2 separate regions of the Homo sapiens genome follow, and region 2 is linked to region 1. A link means that fine-mapping ties the variant in region 1 to the expression of a gene that starts in the linked region. Tissue or cell type: whole blood. Region 1 holds a variant in brackets; the other region holds the start of a gene. All regions are shown on one strand. Distances are between the middles of the regions.

Evidence for each region. PIP is the estimated chance that this variant, and not a neighbour inherited with it, causes the effect.
Region 2: PPEF1 starts here. The variant in region 1 is fine-mapped to the expression of PPEF1 in whole blood (TOPMed, PIP above 0.99).

Annotation. Positions count from the first base shown.
Region 1 is chrX:18,669,386-18,677,568 of GRCh38, forward strand. RS1 (retinoschisin 1) reads right to left here and starts at 2,723. Exons shown (of 6, transcript NM_000330.4): 1 at 2,632-2,723. The coding sequence starts at 2,683. TRV-TAC1-2 (tRNA-Val (anticodon TAC) 1-2) reads right to left here and starts at 5,596; the gene lies at 5,524-5,596. It also overlaps a transcript of PPEF1 not described here. RefSeq lists a silencer at 5,521-5,707. The variant A/G (reference allele first, on the strand shown) is at 3,282.
Region 2 is chrX:18,703,294-18,711,476 of GRCh38, forward strand. PPEF1 (protein phosphatase with EF-hand domain 1) reads left to right here and starts at 4,352. Exons shown (of 16, transcript NM_001377996.1): 1 at 4,352-4,533. The coding sequence starts at 4,488.

The sequences.
Region 1 (8,183 bases):
GAGCCTGAGGCAGGAGAATCGCTTGAACCCGGGAGATGGAGGTTGTGGTGAGCCGAGATCACGCCACTGCACTCCAGCCTGGGCAACAAGAGTGAAATTCTCAAAAAAAAAAAAAAAAAGACATAGGAAATGCCTTACTGTGAGGCTGTGTGCTCTCCGAAATGAACCTTCATCCAACGCCTAAGTGAAGGCAATTTCTTTACCTTATTTCACTGTAATGAGGAGACACTGCCACTGAAGGACAGAAGCAGTGGAGGGTAAATTGGACAAACAGCCTTTGTCTTCAGGTTCCCAGCTGTACAATGGGATGCATCTTTCCCATGTCTATGGGCCTTATGCATCTCCATCTGGATAATATGCTGATTAAGTTCAGTGATTGTGTCCTCTGTCCCCTGGAGCATCCCTCTGGCCCAGGGTAGGGCACACAGTAGGTTGCCAAGCCACACTGGCTATTTTTGGCTGGCTGCTTTCCTTTCAAGTGCTGTTAAAGGCCTGCGTTAAGCAAGTAAGATAATTTAAGCTCCCCAAACCTTCCCACTGGCCCACGTTGCAGGGCACCTGGAGAGACGATGTTCTCTGCTCTTCGTGGACATTTCTGGAGCTCCCCAGCCATGCACAAAGATTGGTAAACTTTAGAACACGAAAGAGTGCTATCCTTCATGCCTCCTGACAGCCTGTCTTTTATTGCTGATATCCACTAACTGGGCAGGTCTAATTTTAAAATGCTTTGGTAAACATTTCTAGGACTTCTTCGCATCGCGGGGGTGGGGAGGTCACAGAACAGGGTTGTTAGACTCAGCACTGTGGAAGAAACAAGGATGCCCTGCATGTCAAGTCCTTTTTTTTTTTTTTTTTTTTGAGACTGAGTCTCGCTCAGTCACCCAGGCTGGAGTGCAATGGCATGATCTCAGCTCACTGCAACCTCCCTCTCCAGCAATCAGACGATTCTCCCGCTTCAGCCTCCCCCGAGTAGCTGGGATTAGAGGCACCTGCCATCATGCCCAGATACTTTTTGTATTTTTGTAGAGACGGGGTTTCACCAGGTTGGGCAGGCTGGTCTCAAACTCCTGACCTCAGGTGATAGACCCGCCTCAGCCTCCCAAAGTGCTGGGATTACAGTCATGAGCCACCGCGCCCCGCCGTCATACACAATGTTTGCCCCCTAGCAGATAGTCAGGGATGAGCTCTTAAAAGAAGGGACCAAGGAATGAATGAATGAATCTCCATGCCAATCACAAAGAAGAGAAATCCGAGAGTGAGCCCTGGGAGTGTCTGACAACCAGGAGTATTTAGATCTAAGCCTTGAAAGAGTCTGCTTAGATTTTCTTGCTGAGGAAAGAGGAGGGGGCAAGGAGTAAAAGGAAAAACAACAAAACCCCAAAGCATCTTAAAGTAGTCAGAGTTACTGGGACAAGTTGCAGACTATTAATTGCAAGGGGAAAAAATCCTAACAGACAACTGGTTTACATGATCCCTACTTAGAAATATACCTTGGGGTTTGCAGAATGACCTTGGAATTATATTGTCACCAGTCTTTCCAAATACTGAGAAATGTGACTAAGTAACAAAAGTCATCAGCCTGGGAAACATGGTGAAAACCCCTCTCTACAAGAAATACAATAAATTAGCCGGATGTGGTGGTGCGTGCCTGTAGTCCCAGCTACTAGGGAGGCTGAGGCAGGAGGATGGCTTGAGCCTGGGAGGTTGAGGCTACAGTGAGCCGTGAAACCAAGAATTCTGATTCTACTTGTGTGAGTTTCGCTGTGTCTGTCTACCAGGTCATTTGCAGAGCACAGAGACCTCCTTCTCCCTGCTTTTTAATTTATTTTCTATAACACACAAATACACGATGTCCACAAAGAAGACAGGCAACCAATTTCTAACATCTGGATGAACCTGAGGAGAAATTCTGAGCAGATGGGTACTTGAGAATTGAGAGAGGCATGAAAGAATATTATTTCAAAGATTGAGAGGGAATTGGAACTGGATGACATTTTACAGATTTGCCCTTATTTTTTCCTAATTGAAGCATATCACTTCTGCTAGGGTCATATTTAGAAATTTTAAAATGAGTGAGTGTACTGAGTCTCCGAGGTTTCCTGACTCTCAGTTGGATTATGTTTTTTATTAGATTCCAGTGGTACTGGGTATGTTACGTTAATCCATATTTAAACTAGGTTGACCTTACACCCCAATTTGCCCTGGATGGTCCTGGGTTACACCTGTCGTCCCAACAGAATTATTAATAGCATCGTCCTCCACCGTCAATAGCATTCCGGTTTGGAATATTAAATTCTACAATCACTCCCACTTTGACTCCTAAAAGTTTTCCAGAATATGCCATACTTTCTCATTAATTGTTGCAACTTATGGCTATTTTATAGATTTCTGAGACCCATCCTGTTTTCTGTTGGATTTTAAGCATCCTTTGAACTTTAGAAGGCTCCTCACAGAACTGGAAAGCCATCCACACAAAGACAACTGTTGTTCATTAATAACACATGTTAGTTAATTAACGTGTTGCTAATTAATAATATTTATATTATTCAGGCTATATTCCTATTTATCAACGATATTAATTAAATTATGTATTAAGTATGCAATGAATGTCAATGGTTGAATAGCACATACCTTCATAGCCAAAGAGAAGTAATAACAAAAAGCCTTCTATCTTGCGTGACATCTTCCCCTCGTCCTCGGCCAAAGCTCTACCTTACTGAACTGGAGAGCTGGCCCAGGAGCAGGGGATTAAGTTGAGCCCTGGCCTCATTAAGCATCTTAATCCATTTAGTTCTTAGGTCTTTGGCTGAGCCCCATCAAGTTAACCCACAGAGTTACCTGCCTCAACAAGGAAGTCTCATGGAAGATACTAGCATCAACTGAGATTCAGTTCGCGAGGAAGATACTTTTCGTTCTTTTTTTTTTTTTTTTTTTTTTTTTTGAGATGGAGTTTCGCTCTTGTCACCCAGGCTGGAGTGCAATGGCGCCATCTCGGCTCACTGCAACCTCTGCCTCCCGGGTTCAATCTAGTCTCCTGCCTCAGCCTTCCGAGTAGCTGGGATTATAGGCTCACGCCACCACGCCCAGCTAATTTTTGTATTTTTAGTAGAGATGGGGTTTCGTCATGTCAGTCAGGCTGGTCTCGGACTCCTGACCTCAGGTGATCCACCCACCTCGGCCTCCCAAAGTGCTGGGATTACAGGCGTCAGCCACTGCGCCCGGCCCATACTGTTCATTCTATCTTAATGTAAGGGAAGCAATGGAGGGAGAGAACTACAACC[A/G]GAAGTCTCAGGTTTTCGTCCTTTCTTCGCCATCATTTTTTAGGGGGTGACCTTGAACAATTTCCTGCCACATAAGCACTAACATTCTCGAATTGTATGAAAATGTCATGGATTCCCCTCTTTGAAAGCAACTAGGCATCATGTGCACACCTATTCACTCAGGAAAATGCTAAATTTGGTGGTGGTGGGAGGACAGTTAACACAAAGCTGTGCATTGCTGTGTTACTTTTAACAACAACAAATTGGAAACAATCTAAATGGCCAAGGTTAGGGGGCTGGTTAAGTAAATCAAGAGATGAGTGCAGCCTGGTAGGTTTAAGAGCACAGACTGCCAACCCAGACTGGGTGCCAAATCGCAGCACTAGCACTTGTTACATTGTGACCTCAGGGCAAGTTATTAATATCTCTGCGCCTAAACTTTCTCATCTGTAAGATGATGATAATAATGCCTACTTTCGAGAGTTATTTTGAGGCTTACAAGAGATCATATGTATAAAATACTTAGCACAGTGCTAGACATAATTAGCTATTATTTTTACATCACCATTCAGAATAAAGTTGATGGGAGGAAAAGGGGAGTTGTTTAATAGGTATAGAGTTGAGTTTTGCAAGATGAAAAAGTTCCCGAGATCTGTTTCACAACAATGTGAATATACTTAACACTACTGAACTGTACACTTAAAAATGATTATGGTGGGCTGGAGGTGGTGGCTCACACCTGTAATCCCAGCACTTTGGGAGGCCAAGGCAGGCAGATCACTTGAGGTCAGGAGTTCGAGACCAGCCTGGGCAACATGGCGAAACCTCGTCTCTACCAAAAATACAAAAATTAGTCGGGCGTGGTGGCGTGCACCTATAATCTCAGCTACTCGGGAGGCTGAGGCAGGAGAATCGCTTGAACCCAGGAGGCCGAGGTTTCAGTGAGCCGAGATTGTACCACTGCACTCCAGCCTGGGTGACAGAGCCAGACTCTGTCTCAAAAAAAAAAAAAAATGGTTAAGGTGGTTTTAAAAAAGGCCGGGCACGGTGGCTCAAGCCTGTAATCCTAGCACTTTGGGAGGCCGAGGCGGGCGGATCACGAGGTCAGGAGATCGAGACCATCCTGGCTAACACGGTGAAACCCCGTCTCAACTAAAAATACAAAAAATTAGCCGGGCGAGGTGGCAGGCGCCTGTAGTCCCAGCTACTCGGGAGGCTGAGGCAGGAGAATGGTGTGAACCCGGGAGGCAGAGGTTGCAGTGAGCTGAGATCACGACACTGCACTCCAGCCTGGGCGACAGAGTGAGACTCCGCCTCCAAAAAAAAAAAAAAGAATAAAGTTGATGAAGTGATTGTAATAACAGGGAAAGAGTTACACTCAAGTTAGAAAAAGACGCAAATTTCTACACTGTTAAGGATGCATAACTAGGTTGAAAATGCAGAGAAAAATACTGAGTGCCCCTTCCCATTTTATATTTTTTGCTACCACCATCTCACCATGGCCCACACCCTCATTCCTCTTGTCAAAGATAAAAAAGCCAATATTTAAACAAATAATAAACTCCCCAAAGGAAACTGTAATGAAATAGTAAAGAGGAACAGAAAGAAACTAGAGAAACGTTTGCTCATTCAACCAGTATTTATTGAATGTCTACAAGCCTGACATTTATTTTATACTGTGTATGAACTCTATTCCACAAATTCTACTGCTGCATTAAAAGGGACTGTGGGGTTTTTTTTTTTTCGTGCTCTGCACATCAGAGTTTAATGAAAAATAGAACTTTTAATCAGAGTCATAATCATGACCGACCTTTAATAATTCACCTGCAGTCAAAGCGCTGCTGTATTGCCTGCCACATTTTAGTTGGAGGTTGGGTGGCCGGCCCTTGCTGGCTTGCAGGCAAAGGGCAGCCAGGTGCATTCCCCGAGCGCCCGATTTTCCGAGGCGTACTGGGAGGAGAGGTGGGGTAGGGCCCGGCCGGATCGGGGGCGCCGGATCGGGTCTAGGACTTCGCCCGGCCCCTGCCCTCCACTACTTCTCATGTCGGACTATGGCGGCAGTGACCTTGTGGGATAGGAGAGGGTATCTGTCATTTCACTTCTGCGAGAAAAACATGCCAAAAAATTAAAAAGAAAAAAAGGACAAAGAAAAACACTTCGTTGTCGCTTTTTGGTTTTTTTTGTTTGTTTAACCCAAACCCTTTTTTTTTTTTAACCCAAACAACGAAACCCTATAAAAGCAAAAACAGCCGCCTTACGGCTATGGTTCCACTGGGGCTCGAACCCAGGACCTTCTGCGTGTAAAGCAGACGTGATAACCACTACACTATGGAACCTCTACGAGGAAGAATATTGTTGGGACTTTATTCATAGACTCACAGCAGTTCCGGTCCCTCCGCCGGAGCCCCGCCTCTCCACCGTGACCCCGCCCCCGAGGCGAGGAGTTTGCGGCGGCTTCGAGTCTCGGGCTCCGGCGTTTGGGCGGCTTGTCTTCCCTGCCCGCCACAGTCGCGGCCCCTGGGACCAGGGCGAGGCCGGAACCCCGGCCGAGAGCACCTCCCTGCTATCATCTGTCCCCAAACTTTCCCTCAATCGAGGCGCCGGCGGGGCGGCCCGGCGGCCGGAAGTGCACCCTGCTCGGGCTTTGCGCCCCCGGCAGCTTCCTCCGCCCGCGAGGGCCCCGCGCCTTCCCATTTTCCCAACCGGCAAACTGAGCCTCGGCCACCCGGCCCACTTGCCGGTCGGAAGTCAGGACGTCGCCGCTTGCGGCGGCGTGGAAGGCTTCGCCTCCGGAGCAAGGAGGACGGGCCGCTGGTTAGCGGGCCCTTTGCCCGAGGGTGTGGACCTCTACCCGCTCCCCTGCCCCTTCCCGCAGCCTTCTTCCCCTCCCGAGGACAGGCCTAGGGGGTGCAAATGCCAGGGCTTCCGTTAGGTCTCCTTAGTCTAGGGCTGCAGGGGTTGGGGGACGAAGACGTGTAGACGGGGCCACCCGTCTATGGCTTCCAGGGTGGCAGCGGCCCTGGCCACGTGATTGAGGGGCCCAGTGCAAAATGAAGATGCCAGGCCCCTTGTTAAGTTTTTGAGAATTTCACACGGTAACAGCAGAGTATTCAACCTGGTGCGGGGTCCCTGACTTGCTTGCAGGACTGTAGTCTGGGTAACGGGCTGGGACCCTCCATCACAAAGGGTGATTCTTGTTTTTCATCGTCAGTGTCATTTGCCTTCTTCAGGGCTTCCAGGTGGATCTTCGTCACCACCCTAGGATTGCTCACCATTCTCAAGCTTGAAAACCCACCTGCAATCATTTGGGCGGGGGGGGGGGGGCATCTTTAAGCGCCCAGGTGAACTTGGTCTGCAGGCAGCAGCTGTCCTTTTCTCTGGATCTTCTGCTGAGGTCGGTAGGTTGATAAGTGATACTGATTTTGTGGCAGGAACTCCCTTCAGCCAACTCCTGTCTTCCTGGGAAGGCCTCTGGAAGAAACCAGGTGGGTGCAGGGAACACTAAGGTGGGGATCTGGATGTTCGTCTTGATTTGGCCATTCATGAGCTGGGTGCTCGAGCTAGTCAGTTCACCTCTGGTCTCAGTCTCCTCCTTTGTAAATACAAGGGTTGGACTAAACACGTCCCCTTTCACCTCTGGGTCTCAATGTTATGCCCATCTTCCACGTAGGAAAACGGAGGCAGTTATCTGCCATGTAATCCCCCCCACACACACACCCCCGCCCCCCGCCCAGAAGTAGAGGCAGGCCAGCTAGTGGCGTGGGTTTTTCTAGTACCCGTTTCCCGATGTCCTCAGTTAGCTCCCTGTCATATTCATCATGGGGCCCCCTTCTAGTCTGCTTTTTTGGTGAGACGTTTTCAGAGGCCTCTCGAGCGCTTGATGCCTAGATTGTGGGCCACGAGATGACCAGAGTGGCCAGCCACCGGCCGGAGGATACGTTCCTGAGAGCTCCACGTTTCCCACTAGTCAGTGAGCCTCAGGACTCCTGGGAAGCCTGATAATAAGTGTATCCCACCTGTTTCCAAACCCCTAGCGGTCGAAAACAAGACTGCCAGGAACTGGCCCTAAAGTTACACCCACTGGTTGTGTTTTGGATGGTGTCTCTAGGAAATGCTTTGCTCTCCAGCCCCCCACATCCCGATTTTTCTGTCTGCCCCTGGGTATAAAGGTATGTTTGCCAAGTTCCCACACTTAACCTCTGTGCAGAAAAGAAGCTGGTGTCCCTCTGTTGCATGCTTAACCTCTGTGCAGAAAAGAAGCTGGTGTCCCTCTGTTGCATGCGACACAGGTATCTGCCTTTGGTGAAAAACTCTTGTTCCTTTTCTCCATTCCAGGAGGGAAACTGTGTTCTGTTCTCCCCGCCGCCCCTCGCAAGGTGTCATCACAATCTTTTTTTTTTTTTTTTTTTTTAAGACGGAGTCTCGCTCTGTTGCCCAGGCCGGAGTGCAGTGGCACGATCTCAGCTCACTGCAACCTCTGCCTCCCGTTCGAGCAATTCTCCTGCCTCAGCCACCCAAGTAGCTGGGATTACAGGCGCCCCCCCACCATACCTGGCCTACTTTTTGTATTTTTAGTAGAAATGGGGTTTCACCATGTTGGCCAGGTTGATCTCAAACTCCTGGCCTCAAGTGATCCGCCCACCTCGGCCTCCTGAAGTGTTGGGATTGCAGGCGTAAGCCACCGCGCCCGGCCCCACCCAGCTCAAATTCTGTGGTCATTTTTATCACTTGCTTGTTTGCCCTTTCATTTCTTCCTTGTGCTTGTTGGTAAAACCACAATCTCTTACATCTGACTGTCTCCCTACCCTGCCCCTGAACATGGCCCAAGAAGAACACATCCAAGCTGACTGGTTTCACACTAAATTCATGACTGCTTAGCTCAAGTGAACCCTTTCTGCAGTCCAGAATACGTGTCCACTTCTA
Region 2 (8,183 bases), 34 kb after region 1:
ATAATAATTATTTAATAATGTAAAAATTATTATAGCCAATTTTTTCTAATGGATAATCAAAAAATTCTAGAACATCATGTCTTTCCATCATGATTTTAAAACTTTCTTTAAAAATTATGTATAAGTACTACCCCTTTCTGATTTAATAAAATGCTTTTGTATAATTGAATAGCACCTACCTGTGCACAAAATGATGGATTAATAATGACTTTTAGCAACTAAATTTTTAAAGAACTCTGGCCTAGGAATATTGATTCCTTTGTTCATTCATTCATTCATTTAGCATTATCCAACATCTGCAATGTGAAAGGCACCATGTAGGTGCCAGAGATTCAAGGGCTACTTTGGAAGTTGCCCGTGGGGCTAATAGTCTAACAGAAATATACTCAAGTTTGATGCTTTTTAGTTCTTACTGAATCTTTTATATGCAGTTGTGTTTGTTGTGGATTAACTGAGGGGTGACTGAAAACCAAATGCCTCTGGAGAGATATTGAGACAGTGCTTTTTTTTTTCTGGAAAAAGAAAATCGAAATTGAAATATGTCAATCAGTCCAATCAGTGTTTATGGCCTACTAAATGCTCAATTCTTTTTTTCCCCTGTTTTCTTTTTTAAATTAAAAAACATACCTTTTTTTTTTTTTTTTTTTAAAGTCAGGATTTCACTCTGTCACCCAGGCTGGAGTGCAGTGGTGTGATCACGGCTCGCTGCATCCTTGACCTCCCAGGCTCAGGTGATCCTCCCACCTCAGCCTCCTGAGGAGCTGGGACTACAGATGTGCACCACCATGCCTGGCTAATTTTTTGTATTTTTTGGTAGAGATGGGGTCTCCCTATGTTGCCCAGGCTGGTCTCGAACTCCTGGGCTCAAAGGATCCATCTGCCTCAGCCTCCCAAAGTGCTAGGATTACGAATGAGAGCCACTGTGCCCAGCCCCAATTCTTATGTCTTCATAAAAAGGGGTGGAAAAAATAGCATGAGGATGGAGCGAAGCCCAAGCGAGATTTGGATACTGTTGGAAAATAGTGTTTCTTCAACTGAGATATGGGGATTCCTTGCATCAAAGTTCTCGGCATGGTGCACTTTAAATGTGTATTCCAAGGCACTGGACTTTTGAATCTGAGTATTGTTAGTAAAGCCTGGGAATCTGCATCCCCCCACCCCCAATAAGTCTTGTGAGCACTCGAGTTGGAGAGCACTGATCTAGGCACCTGGAGAATGTCACCAGGACTAGATGAATTCCTAGATGAACAGTGCCCCAATTTCAAAAATGAGAAAAGAATATATGCTAGAAGCCACAGACTTGATATGACCTCTGGAAAAATTCAGCTTGAAATAGATGGAGCCAAAGCATTTCTAGGAAAATGTGATCATCACTATGCAGCACCGTGGGTTTTCTAAAATACCGTCTCTATTACAGATTGTCAAACTTTGTTGTGTATTAGAATCTGGAAAACTGAAAAAAATCTTGATGCCTCATCCTCCACCCAGTACCAATTATGTCAAATTATCTGGGGGTGGGACTTGGGCATCAGTATTTTTTAAACCCCAAGAGATTCTGACTTAATGAGGTGCAGGCTGAGTACTGGGAGTTTGAAAAGCTCCCCAGGTGACACTCATATGCAACGAAGTATGACAAGCACAGGTCTATATGACATGGGACAAGTTGCTTAACTTCCTTGCACTTTGTGTAAATACTAGGTAATTTTAAAGGTCTCTCTCACCTTTAAACTTCTATGATTTTGTATTAAAAATGTTGCCAAATTGATTTCCTTCCTTTCTTCCTCCCCTGCCCTTCCTTCCTTTTCTCCTCCTCCTTCCCTCTCTCTTCTTTTGCTGGAATAAGCTGGAATGTCAAAGTATCAAAATATATACATATCATCATTTTATTAAAATATTTAGTAAAATTCTCCAGGATGTCTCACAGATAAATGAGAGTTATGATAGGTGAGTTTACCAGCTAACTGAACAAATGTGCTCAGCGAGTATGAAGGTAACGGATCTGTGGTGAACCTGGAGGATGGTTTGGAGTGGGATGCCACAGGGCTCATCCTGCCCTTGGATCTGATCTTGTTAATGTTCTTTAGCCATGATGTAGATAAGGAAGACACGAAAGAAATGCCTATCGAATTTGGAAATAAAGCCAAGCACGGTGGCTGATGCCTGTCATCCCAGCACTTTGGGAGGCTGAGGTGGGCACGTTGCTTGAGGCCAGGAGTTTGAGACCAACTTGGGCAACATGGTGAGACCCCATGTCTACAAAAAAGTACAAAAATTAGCTGGGCATGGTGGCGCATGCCTGTAGTTCCAGCTGCTCAGGAGGCTGAGGTAGGAGAATCACTTGAGCCCGGGAGGTGGAGGCTGCAGTGAGTCATGGTTGCGCCACTGCACTCCAGCCTGGGTGACAGAGCGAGACCTTGTCTCAAAAAATAAATAAAAATTTGGAAGTAACCCAAAGTTTAGGAAGGCTAATTCATTCAATACATAAAATAATCAGGTTCACCTCTGGTCAGAAAATCTGTTTACTAAGCTTATTGTTATTTTCAAAACATGGCCATAGTTCAAATATTTTGCTTATTTTAGTTTTCCCTTTCTTCAGTCGAGTTGAAATTTTGAAGCTTTTGGTGTAGTACCAATGGAAAGATAGATATGTCAGTTGTTTGCTGACTTTGTGCCTGTCAAGAAATGCAAATAGGGCTGGGCAAGATGGCTCACACCTGTGATCCCAGCACTTTGGGAGGACAAGGTCGGAGGATCACTTGAGCCCAGGAGTTTGAGACCAGCCTCGGCAACATAGGGAGACCCTGTCTCTACAAAAAAATAAAATTAGCCGGGTGTCACGGCACATGCTTGGGAGGTTAAGGCTGCAGCGAGCCGTGATTGTGCCACTACACTCCATCCTGGGTGACAGAGTGAGACCCTGTCTGAAAAAAAAAAAAAAAAAAAAGGAATGCAAATATATTAGATCAGGTTGGTTTGGAGCATCACAAAATAAAGGAAACATCACCCTAAAAAGTGACGTGACAGTATACTATGGAAAGGAATTTTGTTGAAAACTCCCGTGAAGTGATTATGGGAGTCAGGGAGCTCATGAGAAGGACTATAGAACACAAAGTTAGACTCCAGAGGGGCCTCAGCAGTGCCCAGAGAGCTTGTTTAAAAGGGCACTCTTGGCCAGGCACGGTGGCTCACGCCTGTCATCCCAGCACTTTGGGAGGCCGAGGCAGGTGGATCACCTGAGGTCAGGAGTTCGAGACCATCCTGGCCAACACAGCAAAACCCCGTCTCTACTAAAAATACAAAAAATTAGCCAGGTGTGGTGGCGCATGCCTGTAGTCCCAGCTACTAGGGAGGCTGAGGCGGGAGGATCACCTGAGCCTGGGAGGTTGAGGCTGCAGTGAGCTGTGATCACACCACTGCACTCCAGCCTGGGTAATAGAGCGAGACTCCGTCTCAAAAAATAAAATAAATAAAAGGACACTCTCACAGATTACAATTCCTAAATTTGGGGGGAGGTTTCAAACCTCCTTTTTTTTTTTTTTTTTTTTTTTTTTTTGAGATGGAGTCTCGCTTTGTCGCCCAGGCTAGAGTACAGTGGTGCGATCTCAGCTCACTGCAACCTCCGCCTCCTGGGTTCAAGCGATTCTGCTGCCTCAGCCTCCTGAGTAGCTGGGATTACAGACATGTGCCACCATGCTTGGCTAATTTTTGTACTTTTAGTAGAGACGGGGTTTCACCATGTTGGCCAGGCTGGTCTCGAACTCCTGACCTCGTAATCCGCCCGCCTCGGCCTCCCAAAGTGCTGGGATTGCAGGCGTGAGCCACTGCGACCGGCTGCCTCCTTTTTTTTAAAACAAATGTTCCCAACTTATTCCGCGAAATACTGTCAAAGAACTCACTTTGAATTTCAGCATAGCTGTTAAATATGTTGTTTTTGTCTCATAGTCAACTTCCAATTTGTGTTTTTAAAAGCCTAGATAGGTTGAATTACTTTGAGCTGAAAACCAAAACAGTTAATTATGTCAGCTCCTCCACATCCCATTCCCCATATTTAAATTAGAAAATCGTACACTCTCATATTTCGATTTTTCTTTTCATTTTGAATGCTCTATTTTATACAGAGCTGGATGTGACCTAGACATGGAGAAACTCATTTATGTCTAGCAGAGAAGCAGCCTATAGCTGCTCTGTAGCTGCTGCTGTGTTTTGGAAAATAAGCCAGGATTAGATTATGTCTGATCACTTTCCACATCACATGATGAACAGCGATTCAGAAGAAGCGTAAAATGAATCCTGCTGAGCAGCCCCTCAGCTACCATGTGGTTAACTGGCGGTTTCCTTCCCTCCCTCCTGTGTATTCCTCATTAGAATCTATGACTGAAGAGGATCGGCTAAGAGTGGTTCCTCGCAGCTTAAAGGGAGGCACTTTTCACACTCTGTCTTAAAATCAGAAGTTGAATTCATGAACACATATGATTTAGATAGAAGTCATGGGATGCAGCAGTTCTTCAACGAAAACCAGGAGATCTGACACATGTGAGTACTGGGAATGTGCCTGTGGTTATGAATGAAAAGGGGAAAATGAGCTGCCCTCACCCTCTTCTCCTTTCTCATTTACTCCCACGATGCTCAAGCTGCCCTGTGTGATTTGCACAAGGCATCGTTAGAGTAGCATAGGAAACTACATTTAGGAAGATGTAGCTTTGAATTTATGAAGTACCATAAAGTATTGTCTTAGAGATATTTTGTGTTTGATTTAATTTCATTCGATAATGTACCAATATAAAATCTCAATTTAAAACTCAGTGGCAGGGAACAAGAAAGGCAGTGTAATTTATATGTGTTTCTTCAATACTTTTATAAATAGCTATATCCCTACTTTTGTGACATTTAGTAGCATCATTGAATTTTTATTGGATTTTATAACTCAATGATCACATTATTTCTATATCTATTCAACACAGAACTTCATGAGATTTGCATCACGTTTTAAAAATAATCTAGGAGAATTGGGAGAATGCTAGATCATCTGTTTCCAAAAAAAAGGTGTATTGTTTCTAAATAGATGGCATGCCTTTCTGTACCCCCATATAATTAGAAGCTTAAATATTCACTTTGTTTATTTTGTACTGAGGTTCTTTCTCATGGCTATTGGCATCTAGTTGAAACAAACTTGAGCATTTAAGGGATAGAGTTTCCAACAAGCAAATTAAAATAAAAACAAGTAAATAAGCTGGGACAATTAATATGAGTAATTTGCTCTTAAACTCCACTTCTTTGATGTCTAGGTTATAGGTAATTCCCCCAACTTCTATTCCACGTCTTGCCTTTGGAAGTTTATTCAGGCTTAAGGTGGAGGGTTTAGGATGCAGAGTGTGCTATACTAATTAGCGTGGGATGTTTTACTTTGGGAATCAAATGTTATTCTCCTACCCAGCTGACTTGTGCTGATGATGTAGGAAACTCATCTCTGAAAGTAGGAAGGGACATAGGAGGTGTACTGACTCTTTCAAATCTTTAAGCATGTCATGAAATAAATCTTTCAAAAGCTCCATCTGAACTCTACTGCTGTAGTAGACGTTTATTAGCAGAGAGTAAAGAGAAATTATCTTTTTATATCTAGGATTACTCACAGTTCTTTAAATTTAGCCAAATTTCCTAGGTTAAAAAAAAAAAAGCCAAGTCCAACTTGTAAAAACAAATCCTCTCTCTTTTTGAAATACTTTTCAACTTTTAAAACATTGCATGTAAGTGGAAATATTAGCTTAGATTTTTGGATTGCTTTTTCTTTCAAATACCTGTGATTTATTGAGGTGAAATTCACGTAACATAAAATTAGCCATTGTCAAGTGAACAACTCAGCAGCAGTTGGTATGTTCACAGTGTCGTGCAACCACAACCCCTATGTACTTCTGAGACATTTCCAACACTCCAAAGTAAAACCCCTTATCCATTAAGCACTTTCTCCTCTCAGCCCCTGGCAACCACAAATCTATATTCAGTCTCTATGGATTTATCTATTCTGGACATTTCATGTAAATGGAGTCATATATTATGTGACCTTTTGTGTCTGGCTTTGTCCATGTTGTAGCATGTATCAGTACTATATTCCTTTTTATTGTGGAATAATATTTCATTGTATGAATATGCCACATTGTATTTATCCATTCATCAATTGATAGACATTTGGATTGTTTCAGCTTTGTTTTTTGTTTTTTGTTTTTTTTGAGACAGTCTTGCTCTGTCACCCAGGCTGGAGTGCAGTGGGGCGATCTCGGCTCGCTGCAACCTCCGCCTCCCAGGTTCAAGCGATTCTCCTGCCTCAGCCTCTGGAGTAGCTGGGATTACAGGCACACACCACCACACCTAGCTAATTTTTGTATTTTTGGTAGAGACAGGGTTTCACCATGTTGGCCAGGCTGGTCTCGAACTCCTGACCTCAGGTGATCTGCCCGCCTCGGCCTCCCAAAGCGCTAGGATTACAGGCGTGAGCCACTGTGCCCGACCTGTTTCAGCTTTTTGACTGTTATGAACAATGCTGCTGTGAACATATGTTTTCCGTTCTCTTGGGTATATACCTAGAAGTGGAATTGCTGGGTCATACGGTAGCTTTATGTTTAACATTTTGAGAAATTTCCAAGCTGTTTTCCCAAGTGACTGCACCATTCTACATTCCTACCAGCAGTGTATAAAGGTTTCAATTTCTCCACATTTTCAGCGATAGTTGTTATTGTCTGTCCTTTTGATTTTAGTCATCCTAGTGGGTATGAAGTGGTATCACACCATGGTTTTCATTTGTATTTCAGTAGTGACTAATGACATTGAGCATCTTTTCATGTGTTTATTGGCTATTTGTATATCTGCTTTGGAGAAATGTCTATTCAGATCATTTACCCATTTTTAATTGAATTATTTATTTTTATATTGTTGTAAGATAAATTTATATATTCTAGATACAAGTTTCCTATCAAATATGTGACTTGCAAATATTTTCTCTCATTTGTTGAATTCTCTTCATCCTTTCTTAATGGTGTTCTTTGAAGCACAAAAGTTTTTACTTTTGATGAAGTTCACTTTATTTTTTCTTTGGTTGCTTGTGATTTTGGTGTCATATCTAAGAATCCATTCCCGAGTCCAAAAAGATTTTTGCTCACGTCTTACTTTAAGAGTTTTGTAACAACTCAACAAGAAAAAAAAGATAACTCCATTAAAAAGTGGGCAAAGGTCATGAACAGACATTTTTTCAAAAGAAGGCATACAAATGGCTAACAAACACACGAAAAAAATGCTCAACATCACTAATCATCAGGTAAATGCAAATTGAAACCATAATGAGATACCACCTTACATACCGGTCAGAATGGCTATTACTAAAAAGTCAAAAAATAAGAGATGTAGGCAAGGATGTAGGGAAAAGGGAATGTTTATCACTGCTGGTGGGAATGTAAATTAGTACAACCTCTGTGGAAAACATTATGGAGATTTCTCAAAGAACTAAAAATAGAGCTACCAAACTACCATTTCATCCAGCAATCCCACCACGGAGTCTACCCAAAGGAAGTCATTATATCAAATAGATATCTACACTCTTATGTTTACCGCAGCACTATTTACAATAGCAAAGATATGGAATCACCGTAAGTGTTTTTCAATGGATGATTGGGTAAAGAAAATGTGTGGTGTATGTATATGTAAGTGTGTGTGTGTGTATATATGTGTGTGTGTGTATGTGTGTGTATATATACGTATATATGTATGTATGTGTGTGCATATATATATGTATATATATGTGTGTGTGTGTGTATATATATATATATGCATGCCATGGAATACTACTCAGCCATAAAAAAGAATGAAATCATGTCTTTTGCAGCAACATGGATGGAACAAGAAGCCATTATCCTAAGTGAAATTACTCAAAAAACAGAAAGTCAAATACCCCATGTTCTCACTTAAAAGTGGGAGCTAAATAATGTATACATATGGGCATCCAGAATACAATAATAGACACTGGAGACTCAGAAAGCTGGGAGGGTGGGAGGGGGGTGAGGTATGAGAAATTACCTAATGAGTACAATGTATGCTACTTGGGTAATGGTTACGCTAAAAGCCCAGACTTCATTATACATGTAACAAAATTACACTTATACCCCCTAAATATATATGTTTTTAAAGGCCAAAAAAAG